Linked DNA regions of Homo sapiens. The protein of the gene in region 1 purifies or fractionates together with the protein of each later gene. This does not show direct contact. Each region holds a gene or a part of one and is shown on either strand. Other genes may lie near its edges.

Region 1 (3,739 bases):
TAGAAACAGATACATAGATCAGTGCAACAGTGGAAAAGAACAGAGAACCCAGAGATAAGTCCGTAAAGTCCATACATCTACATGGAACTCATTTTTGACAAAGCTACCAAGAACATACACTGGAGAAAGGACAGTCTCTTCAATAAATGGTAATGGGAAAATTGGATATCCATACACAGAAGAATGAAACTTGACCTGTATCCCTAACTATATAAAAAAATCAAATCAAAATGTATTAAAGACTTTAAGTCCTCAAACTGTGAAACTACAAGAAAACATTGGGAAAACTCTCCAGAACACTGGACTGGGCAAAGATTTCTTGAATAATACCCCACAGGCAACCAAAGCAAAAATGGACAAATGGGATCACATTAAGTTAAAAAGCTTCTGCACAGCAGAGGAAACAGCAAAGTGAAGAGACATCCCACAGAATGGAAGAAAATATTTGCAAACTACCCATTTGTCAAAGGATTAATAAATAACCAGAATATGTAAGAGCTCAAACAACTCTACTGAAAAAAATCCTAACAGTCCGATTTAAAAATAGGCAAAAGATCTGAACAGATGATTCTCAAAGGAAGACATACAAATGGCAAACAAGCATATTAAAAGCTGTTCAGTATCACTGATCATCAGAGAAATGCAATCAAAACTACAATGAGATAACATCTCATCCCAGATAAAATGGCTTTTATCCAAAAGTCAGGCAATAACAAATCCTGACAAGAATGTGGAGAAAAGGAAACCCTCATACACTTTTGGTGGGAACGCAAATTAGTACAATCACTGTGGAAGCAGTTTGAAGGTTCCTCAAAAAACTACAGATAAGAGTTACCCTACTCCTAGGTTTACACCCAAAAGAAAGTCAGTATATCAAAGAGATATGTGCACTCCCATGTTTACTGCAGCACTATTCACAGTAGCCATGATTTGGAAGCAACCTAAGTGTCCATCAACAGATAAATGGATAAAGAAAACATGGTATGTATACACAATAGAATACTATTCAACCATAAGCAATGAGACCCTGTAATTTGCAGCAACATGGATGGAACTGGAGTTTATTAAGTGAAATAAGCCAGACACAGAAAGACAAACTTGGCATGTTCTCACTTATTTGTGGGAGCTAAAAACTACAATTAAACTCATGGAGACAGAGAGAAGGATGGATACCAGAGGCTGAGAAAGGCAGTGGGGGTGGGGGAAAGTGGGGCTGGCTAATGGATACAAATAAATACAAAGAGAGACTAAGACCCAGTATTTGATAGCCCAACACAGTGACTACCGCAATAAATAATTTAATTATACATTTTAAAATAACTAAGAGTTAAACTGTTTGTAACAGGGATAAATGCTGGAGGTGATAAATACCCCATTTACCCTGATGTCCTTATTACTTATTGCATGCCTGTATCAAAGTATCTCATGTAACCTATAAATACATACTTACTCATAACAACTAAAAATTAAAAATTATACCACTACCTAAATTTGAAAGTGGAAGAATCTCAAATTATGAGCTTGGGTTCTCCCTTAAGGAAAAAAAAAAAAAAAAAAAAGTAAAGGCAATGGAGGGGTGCACAACAGGGACTAACACATCAATGACAGCCAAGCAGTGTTAAATACTTAGAAAGGGGAAATTTACATAATCCACATATTTACATATTCATGAATACTTACTGAAGGCTTTGGTCCTCGTTTCTTTTTCTCTGCCTTCTCCTTTTCTTCTAGTTCCATGTTTTCTCTTTCAATCAAAGTAATTAAGGTATTACATCTCCTCTGGAGCTCCTAAATTATAAACAAACATGGTACACGCACTTTCCATCCACAAGTTTCATGATTTCAATTTTAAAACAAGGTATGTTTTAATAGGATAATATATAAAACCACTAATACACCCCTGATTTAAAAAAAAAACAACTGATTTTCATATACAATTCATGCTATGAAGATTAAAGGCAAGATATTTGTAAATAATGTTTTTACTCCAATCTTTAAAGCCAAACTACTGTGTATTCTTCAAAAATTCTTCCTTCACTTAGGAATTAAAGCAATAAAAATGAACATATGCAATACTGCTACTTAGTGTGTATGTCTGAGAACTACTGTGCTACTTATATCCAAAACTTAAAAAGATTAATAGTGCACATATGTGAGGGTCAAAAACAACAAGAACTTTAACAGGTGTGTATAATCTTTCCCTTCAAAGTATCACTAGAATTATGGTAGTCAATCAATCACATGGCACCTTTCCCAATTTTGGAAAACCAGCCATGGAAGTCTACGATGAGTTCTACCTCATCTCTCTCTGGCAAACTGGACATACAGCCTCCAGAAAAGATTTAAAGTATAACATAGAAGTAGCAGTTAACCCTGAAAGAAACAGAAGTCCATCTGCACGGACGGCTGCTGGGTAGCAGCCCCCTTTCTTATAGAGCAAAATTATTTTTTTCTTATAGTAAGTGATACTACTACACACACAACTACAGTAAAATAATTTTAAAATACTACTGTATAGAATACACCACACAAGACTTAGAAATAGTATATAGAGATAGAAGAATACATTATCATTTTTTGTGCATCTTAACATGGAACATGTTAAGAAGTAACACAGTTTTAAATTACGGTACTGTACTAGTTAAATTAACATGGCACTGTCTTGTTACAATCACTATAAAATTATTCTTTATTAACTCTATAAATTGTTCCCACTTAAGAAGAAATAAGCTTTCAGCAACTGGATCTTTTCTCTAATTATATATTTATACAGTGTTTTATCTTCAAAGTATCTTCATGTATTTAAGTTTAGTACATTTCCCAAACTTGGGTATCACAAACAGTGATGTCTAGTGAAAAAAAATTTTCAGTGGTCAAACATGAAAATACTGCTTACTATCCACTGTCTTACAAAGTGACATTTTACTTTAAATATACAGAGAAATCTTACTATAAACAAACACAAAGATGTTTAAACTTTGCTTATCCCAGAATATCCCAAACTTAAGACTAAAGAACTTATTAGCATTATCCTCATCTGGCAGAAAACAAGTTGAAGCTCAAAGTTCAATGGTGGTGAAATAAGGAAGAAAAGGAGCAATCCATCAAAGTTAAACTTTTCTGAATTCAAATTTTAGGTTATTAGAAATGGGGCTATTTGGTCAGAAACTGTTAGTCAGATATTGGGAATAAAAACAAAACCTAGCACTAAATCAGTGCAAAAGTAGTGTTTCACTATAATAAGCCATCTTAAAATAATCCAGACTCTGGATGATTTATATTAAATAAATCAGAATGCTGATTCTGATGTGCAGATGCTTGAATGCAAGGACCATTTTTCTTTATAGAAATATGTTCATTTGAAAAACCAAAAAGTCGTAACACTCAGAAGTTGAAACTGATACTTCCTCCCACTTAGAACTTGAAAAGCTAGTCTTATCATATAGTGATATTTAAAGACGTAAGATACTAAAGGATAGGACCAATAAACTTGTAAGCTATCCCTGGTATTAGGTTTTATGATACTAACAATATTGTAACAAAAGTCTACTTCATAGATTTTTTTAAAGTCACCTTAAAGAATACCAAAGATGACACTTACTCTGAACTCTGCTACATTACACAAAAAAGCCCTGAGCACTCACCATTGCAGTTCTGGACTTAAGAAACCAGTCAAATCTGAACTGAGGAGAGTTGCGAATACACTGTCGCAATTCATCATAAACATTTTCTTTGTCAA
Region 2 (3,739 bases), on another chromosome or scaffold:
GGAGAAACCCAGTCTCTACTAAAAAAAATTACAAAAATTTAGCCAGGCGTGGTGGCGCATGCCTGTAATCTCAGCTACTCGGGAGGCTGAGGCAGGAGAATCGCTTGAACCCAGGAGGCGGAGGTTGCAGAGAGCCAAGATCGCACCATTGCACTCCAGGCTGGAAAATAAGAACAAAACTCCGTCTCAAAAATAAAAATGCCGGGCACGGTGGCTCACGTCTGTAATTCCAGTACTTTGGGAGGCCAAAGAGGGCGGATCATGAGGTCAGGAGATCGAGACCACCCTGACCAACATGGTGAAACCCCGTCTCTACTAAATAAAAAACAACAACAAAAAAACTAGCCGGGCATGGTGGTGCATGCCTGTAATCCTAGCTAATCAGCAGGCTGAGGCAGGAGAATTGCTTGAACCTGGGAGGCAGAGGTTGCAGTGAGCTGAGATTGCTCTACTGAACTCCAGCCTGGGTGAGGCAGTGAGACTCTGTCTCAGAAAAAAAAAAAATTAAAAAAAAAATAAAGAAATAAAAAGTAAGAAAGTACTGATGAAAACATCCTCCCTCTCCTCATGATGAGTCAAAAACTATTCCCTGGAACTTAATTCCTGGTACTAGATCTACTCTGAGAGACACCAAGTTTCTTCTGAATTCTTTTCCTTTACCAGACAACCACCAAGTTACGCACTTCTTTAAAAACAAAAAAAAGTGGGGGGCGGGTGGGCAGCCTCACACATGTACTCCCAGCACTCTGGGAGGTGGGCAAATCGCTTGAGCTCACAAGTTCAAGACCAGACTGGCCAACATGGCAAACCCCATCTCTACAAAAAATTTTAAAAATTAACCAGGGCTGGTGATGCACACCTGTGGTCCCAGTTACTAGGGAGGCTGAGGTAGGAGGATGTCTTGAGCCCGGGAATTGGAGGCTGCAGTGAGCTGTAATCGCACCACTGCACTGTAGCCTGAACAACAGAGCAAGAAACTGTCTTCCACCTCCAAATTGTCGCAAACTCCATACAACATAAAATTTATCAGCTTAGCCATTTTAAGTGTACAGTTCAGTGGCATTAAGTACACTCACACTGCATTAACCATAACCACCACCTATCTCCGGAATATATACATATATATATTTTAATTGAGACGGAGTCTCGCTCTGTCGCCCAGGCCAGAGTGCAGTGACGCAATCTTGGCTCAATGCAAGCTCCGCCTCCCGTGTTCACGCCATTTTCCTGCCTCAGCCTCCTGAGGAGCTGGGACTACAGGCGCCCGCCACCACGCCCGGCTAATTTTTTTTTGTATTTTTAGTACAGATGGGGTTTCACTGTGTTAGCCAGGATGGTCTCGATCTCCTGACCTCGTGATCCACCCGCCTCGGCCTCCCAGAGTACTGGGATTACAGGCGTGAGCCAACGTGCTCGGCCGAATATAACTATTTTAAAAATATTAATGTATGAGACACCACAGTTATTTTTATTAAATTGAAGTGCTTTGAAAATTTAAGAGGCCAGGCGCGGTGGCTCATGCCTGCAATCCCAGCACTCCGGGAGGTCGAGGTGGGCGGATCACAAGGTCAGGAGTTTGAGACCAGCCTGGCCAACATAGTGAAACCGTCTCTACTGAAAATACAAAAAAATTAGCCAGGCATGGTGGTACGCACCTATAGTCCCAGCTACTCAGAAGGCTGAGGCAGGAGAATCGATCGAACCTGGGAGGTGGAAGTTGCAGTGAGCCGAGATTGCACCATTGCACTCCAGCCTGGGTGAAAAAGTGAGAGACCATCTCAAAAAAAAAAAAAGAGAAAATTTAAGGAGGGTGTTCACATTCTTTGAGATAGAGATAGGGAACATTTTTGAAATCTAGACAGCTTTCATGGAGAAATAGTAGTATTTGATGCTGTGATATGATATACCTCCTTTGGGTATGTAAATTTGTACTTGTAAGATGATAAGATGGGAGAAACACCGCAGATAGATGGTATGAAATCTGGAAGTGAACTAGAACTAGAAGTAAACAGACATGGAAAATTCTTGAGTTTTCAAGTCTGGTTAGCTAGGAAAATGTTGGAGTCATACAAAAAGAAAGAAAGAAGGAGGAGAGGGAAAAGGAGAAGTGGGAGAGAGGGTCAGTTTTGTTTAGCAGAGTTTAAAATACCAGTGGTATGACCAAATACAGTCAAGAGCAGGCAGCTGAAAATGATAATGTATAGACAAGTCTTAAAATCACACCTGGGAGTAAAATGAACAGAGATGGTAGCTGTAATCATAAAATATACAAATGTAAATTGATTCTATGTCTCACTTATTTCACCTCCCCAAAATAAATTACTAAACCCTTACCATTTGCCACACTTGCATGATATTGTCTTCTGATACAGAACAAATCACCCAAGGTTCATTGGGATTCCAGGAGAAATCAGATATCTTGGCAGTATGACCACCATGAATAAACTGAAAGAGGGAAGAAAACAAAGAGGTGAAATGCAGATAGAGGACATTAAATTACAGACTATTTCAGTACTGTCCAATGCTTTTAACATACCAACAACTCTGGTGGCCCGTCTTCTGCATCTTCTGGGGATTGTTCCTCTCCAATTTTACTAGTACAAAAGCATAATTTTAAAAGTTAAAACAGATTTACCCTTAGTAACTACCTTTGCAAAGTGTAAATAAAGGAAATAATTATGTAGAGAGAGGAATGAATACAAGAATTACCTTAAATCCCAGACATTCAGTCTGCGATCAGTACCACTGGAAGCTAAAATAGTCTCATTGTGAGGTGACCACTGAACCTACACATAGGAATGAAGAAAAGAGCAAAGCCATGAATTAGAAAATAAAGGGAAAAAATTCACAAAATATTTAACAATTTAAAAATTTTGTAAATAAAAGGGAAGAGGAAGTCAAGGTATTATACACGTTACAGTTAAAATTAAGAGCTAAAGAATTTATTTTATGGGCAGGCGCGGTTGGCTCACACCTGTAATCCCAGCACTTTGGGAGGCGGGTGGATCACATGAGGTCAGGAGTTCAAGATCAGCCTAACCAACATGGTGAAACACTGTCTCTACTAAAAATACAAAAATTAGCTGGGTGTGGTGGCAGGCGCCTGTAATCCCAGCTACTCGGGAGGCTGAGGCAGGAGGATTGCTTGAACCCAGGAAGCAGAGGTTGGAGCTGAGATCGTGCCACTGCACTCCAGCCTGGGTGACAGACTCTCTCAAAAACAAACAAAAAGAAAAACAAAAAAAAAATGTTTACAAAAACAACCCATTACTAGACATTTCTAGACCCAGGATATAAGCTTTTGTTCCATTCCCACAGCACCCCTTTGGCACACTTTTTCTTGAGACGGAAGTCTTGCTCTGTCACCCAGGCTGGAGTACAATGGCAGGATCTCAGCTCACTGAAACCTCCACCTCCCAGGTTCAAGCGACTCTCCCACCTTAGCCTCCCAGGTAGCTGGGATTACAGGTGTCCGCCACCACGGCCAGCTAATTTTTGTATTTGTGTAGAGATGGGGTTAGGCTGGTATCAAAAAAAAAAAGAGATGAGGCCTCGCTATATTGCTTCTAGGCTGGACTTGAACTCTTGGGCTCAAGGGATCTCGCTGCCTCAACCTCCTGCGTAGCTGGAGGTGTGTGCCATGTGCCCAGCATCATTTTATCTTTGGAAACATCACATCTTGTCTGTTCTTGTGGGGTGATCTCAGTTCACTGCAATCTCCTCCTCCCATGTTCAAGCG
Region 3 (2,522 bases), on another chromosome or scaffold:
TTACCTTAGATGTTTGCACCTAACTGTATATGAGCAAATGATGCTGGATTAATGTTCATCATAATCAGTATGGAAATGGCATTTTGACTAGGAAAATGTCCTCATTCTTAAGGGATGCAGGCTGAAGTCTTCAGCCATTTCATTGTATAGGCTCATGGATAAAGCATCAGTTATGCTAGTATCACTTGGTGAATCTAGGTAAAGGGTATACAGGTATCCATTGTACTATATTCTGTCACCTATTCTGGAGGTTTGGAAATTTGCAAAATAAGTATAAATAGATTACTGAGCCTGTACCACCTTCTAAAACCAGACAGCACCCACCCCCAGTTGAAATACTGATAGCTCTAAAAACTTAGTAAAACCTTTGTTAGGATTAACAGGAGAGTATATGAAATCAAAGCTTTTTTTGTTCTTGTAACAGTTTATTCATGGAGGACACACTGCTAAGATTTCAGATTTTAGCTGGAACCCCAATGAGCCTTGGGTCATTTGCTCAGTGTCTGAGGATAACATCATGCAGATATGGCAAATGGTGAGTTAAAATGTTTTTCTTGAATGACTGTCTTGTAAAGGAGAGATTTACTACTTACATAATGTAATAAAGTTATTTCGAATATGTAGGTGCATATTATGCCAAACATTTACAGAAACCGTTTAAAAGAACTTTTTCCATTTCAACAATACAATCTTTAGTCCCATATGGTGCTTCGTCCACTGTTTGCTATTTGTAGCACCTGTCAGGTCAGGAGAAATCTCTGCATCTGCACTGATTTTCATTGTTGTTGTGCTCTTCATACACTGGAGTCTTGGCGTCGCTACTCTGTCTCCAGTGTCTGTTCTGTGTGGTAGGCATGAGGGATACAGGAAGGAGAGGTCAAGGCATTCAAATGACAGCAAGTTCTCTGAGGATGAGCACTAAGTAGCTGACATTTCTAAGTTGTTGTTAACCGAGACTTCCATAACATCTGGGCTACCACTTCCTCTAAACGATGCTTGAAGTGCCTTTGGAAAACATCTCTTATGAACAGTGATTGAAATAAGTAGTGCATCGATGGGTGGCTAAGTATACATACGGAATTACACACTGGCAAAGAATTTTTCAAAATACTGGCTAGCCTACCATTTCCTTATTGAAGTTTTTAAGAGAGAAATGTAAAAATGAAACTATTAAGTTCTAAATAGATTAAATTGTTTTTACATGACCATGTGAAAACCATAGGGAGTTTTTACCTGTGAATTTATTTGGTTATCTCCAGGCTGAAAATATTTACAATGATGAAGAGTCAGATGTCACGACATCCGAACTGGAGGGACAAGGATCTTAAACCCAAAGTACGAGAAATGTTTCTGTTGAATGTAATGCTACATGAATGCTTGATTTATCAAGCGCCAAAAAGGCATTGTATAGTAGGAAATGTAAGTGGGGTGGCTTATGGCTTCTTTATCCTCTGATTCTAGCACTTTCAAGTGAGCTGTTGCGTACTGTATCATATTGTAGCTATTAGGGAAGAGAAGAATGTTGCTTAAGAAAGAACATCACCATTGATTTTAAATACAAGTAGCAGGGTATTGCCTTTGATTCAACTGTTTTAAGTCCTCATTTTCTCAAACTAAGTGCTTGCTGTTCCCAAATATGCAAGAATAACTTTTACACTTTTTCCTTCCAACACTTCTTGATTGGCTTTGCAGAAATAAAGTTTTAAAATAAAACTTGTGTTTTTTTAAAAGCTTAGTGGGGGGGGGCGGGGGAGTCTACTTTTTGAGTAGAAATGGGTAAAATGGTACCTTTGGACTCCTACAGTTAAGGTCACATGGATAATGAAAGAATACACAGAAGCTGTTAAGTTTATCATACATATTTACTTAATCTATACAGAATCAAGTAGATAAAATCAGATTCACATTAGTGAAAAATCTCTACAAAATGTCTTTGAAAAGCAAAACGAGACTGCCTCTTAACAATTCGTATCCTCATGAAAGACGTGGGCTGTAAAAATAAAGCAGTGTGTTTAGCACAAACTAGAAGATATCTGCATCATTTTTTTCACAGTTATTTCCATCTACAGTCTGAAAGAGGTAGATTTTTCTGCAACACCTGAGAATTGAATTGTGATAACCAGGTGTAATAAAGGCAGTTGCATACATAACTGAAAAATACTGGTCTCAAGACCAAGAAATGTACTCCTAACAAGTCTGAGGATGAAATGGTCCATATTACCCAAGACCCAAGTTTTCTCTACACCTTGGAGTCCACCGCCAATATAAATAATACACATCACGATTCCATGATGGTGCAACAATTGCAATTTAAGTGAATTCAACATTTAAACCTTTTCTGGGCCAGCCTAGTAGCATTACAGTGTTCTAGAATATGGTAGATACGGGGTGCGCTACAAAGCCACAACACTGGGCTGGTGAGGTGATCACTGTAGGAAGATGTCCTTCTCAGGGGGTCCCATTTGTTTTTATTCACAGGGTAATGGGAGGAAGGGTTCTGAAAGGACAACAAATGCATCCCA

Evidence for each region.
Region 2: the proteins of SMARCA5 (region 1) and RBBP4 fractionate together in Homo sapiens (co-fractionation; 6 studies listed by BioGRID and IntAct, with this or other methods). This does not show direct contact.
Region 3: the proteins of SMARCA5 (region 1) and RBBP7 purify together in Homo sapiens (affinity purification with mass spectrometry; 4 studies listed by BioGRID and IntAct, with this or other methods). This does not show direct contact.

Annotation. Positions count from the first base shown.
Region 1 is NC_000004.12:143,548,046-143,551,784, reverse strand, and holds part of SMARCA5 (SWI/SNF-related matrix-associated actin-dependent regulator of chromatin subfamily A member 5), read right to left. Parts: coding exon 3,645-3,739; intron 1,789-3,644; coding exon 1,681-1,788; intron 1-1,680. UniProt on the Homo sapiens protein: ATPase that possesses intrinsic ATP-dependent nucleosome-remodeling activity.
Region 2 is NC_000001.11:32,671,497-32,675,235, reverse strand, and holds part of RBBP4 (histone-binding protein RBBP4), read right to left. Parts: intron 2,787-3,739; coding exon 2,710-2,786; intron 2,595-2,709; coding exon 2,537-2,594; intron 2,446-2,536; coding exon 2,335-2,445; intron 1-2,334. UniProt on the Homo sapiens protein: Core histone-binding subunit that may target chromatin assembly factors, chromatin remodeling factors and histone deacetylases to their histone substrates in a manner that is regulated by nucleosomal DNA.
Region 3 is NC_000023.11:16,843,841-16,846,362, reverse strand, and holds the end of RBBP7 (histone-binding protein RBBP7), read left to right. Parts: intron 1-424; coding exon 425-535; intron 536-1,259; coding exon 1,260-1,328; 3' UTR 1,329-2,022; downstream 2,023-2,522. UniProt on the Homo sapiens protein: Core histone-binding subunit that may target chromatin remodeling factors, histone acetyltransferases and histone deacetylases to their histone substrates in a manner that is regulated by nucleosomal DNA.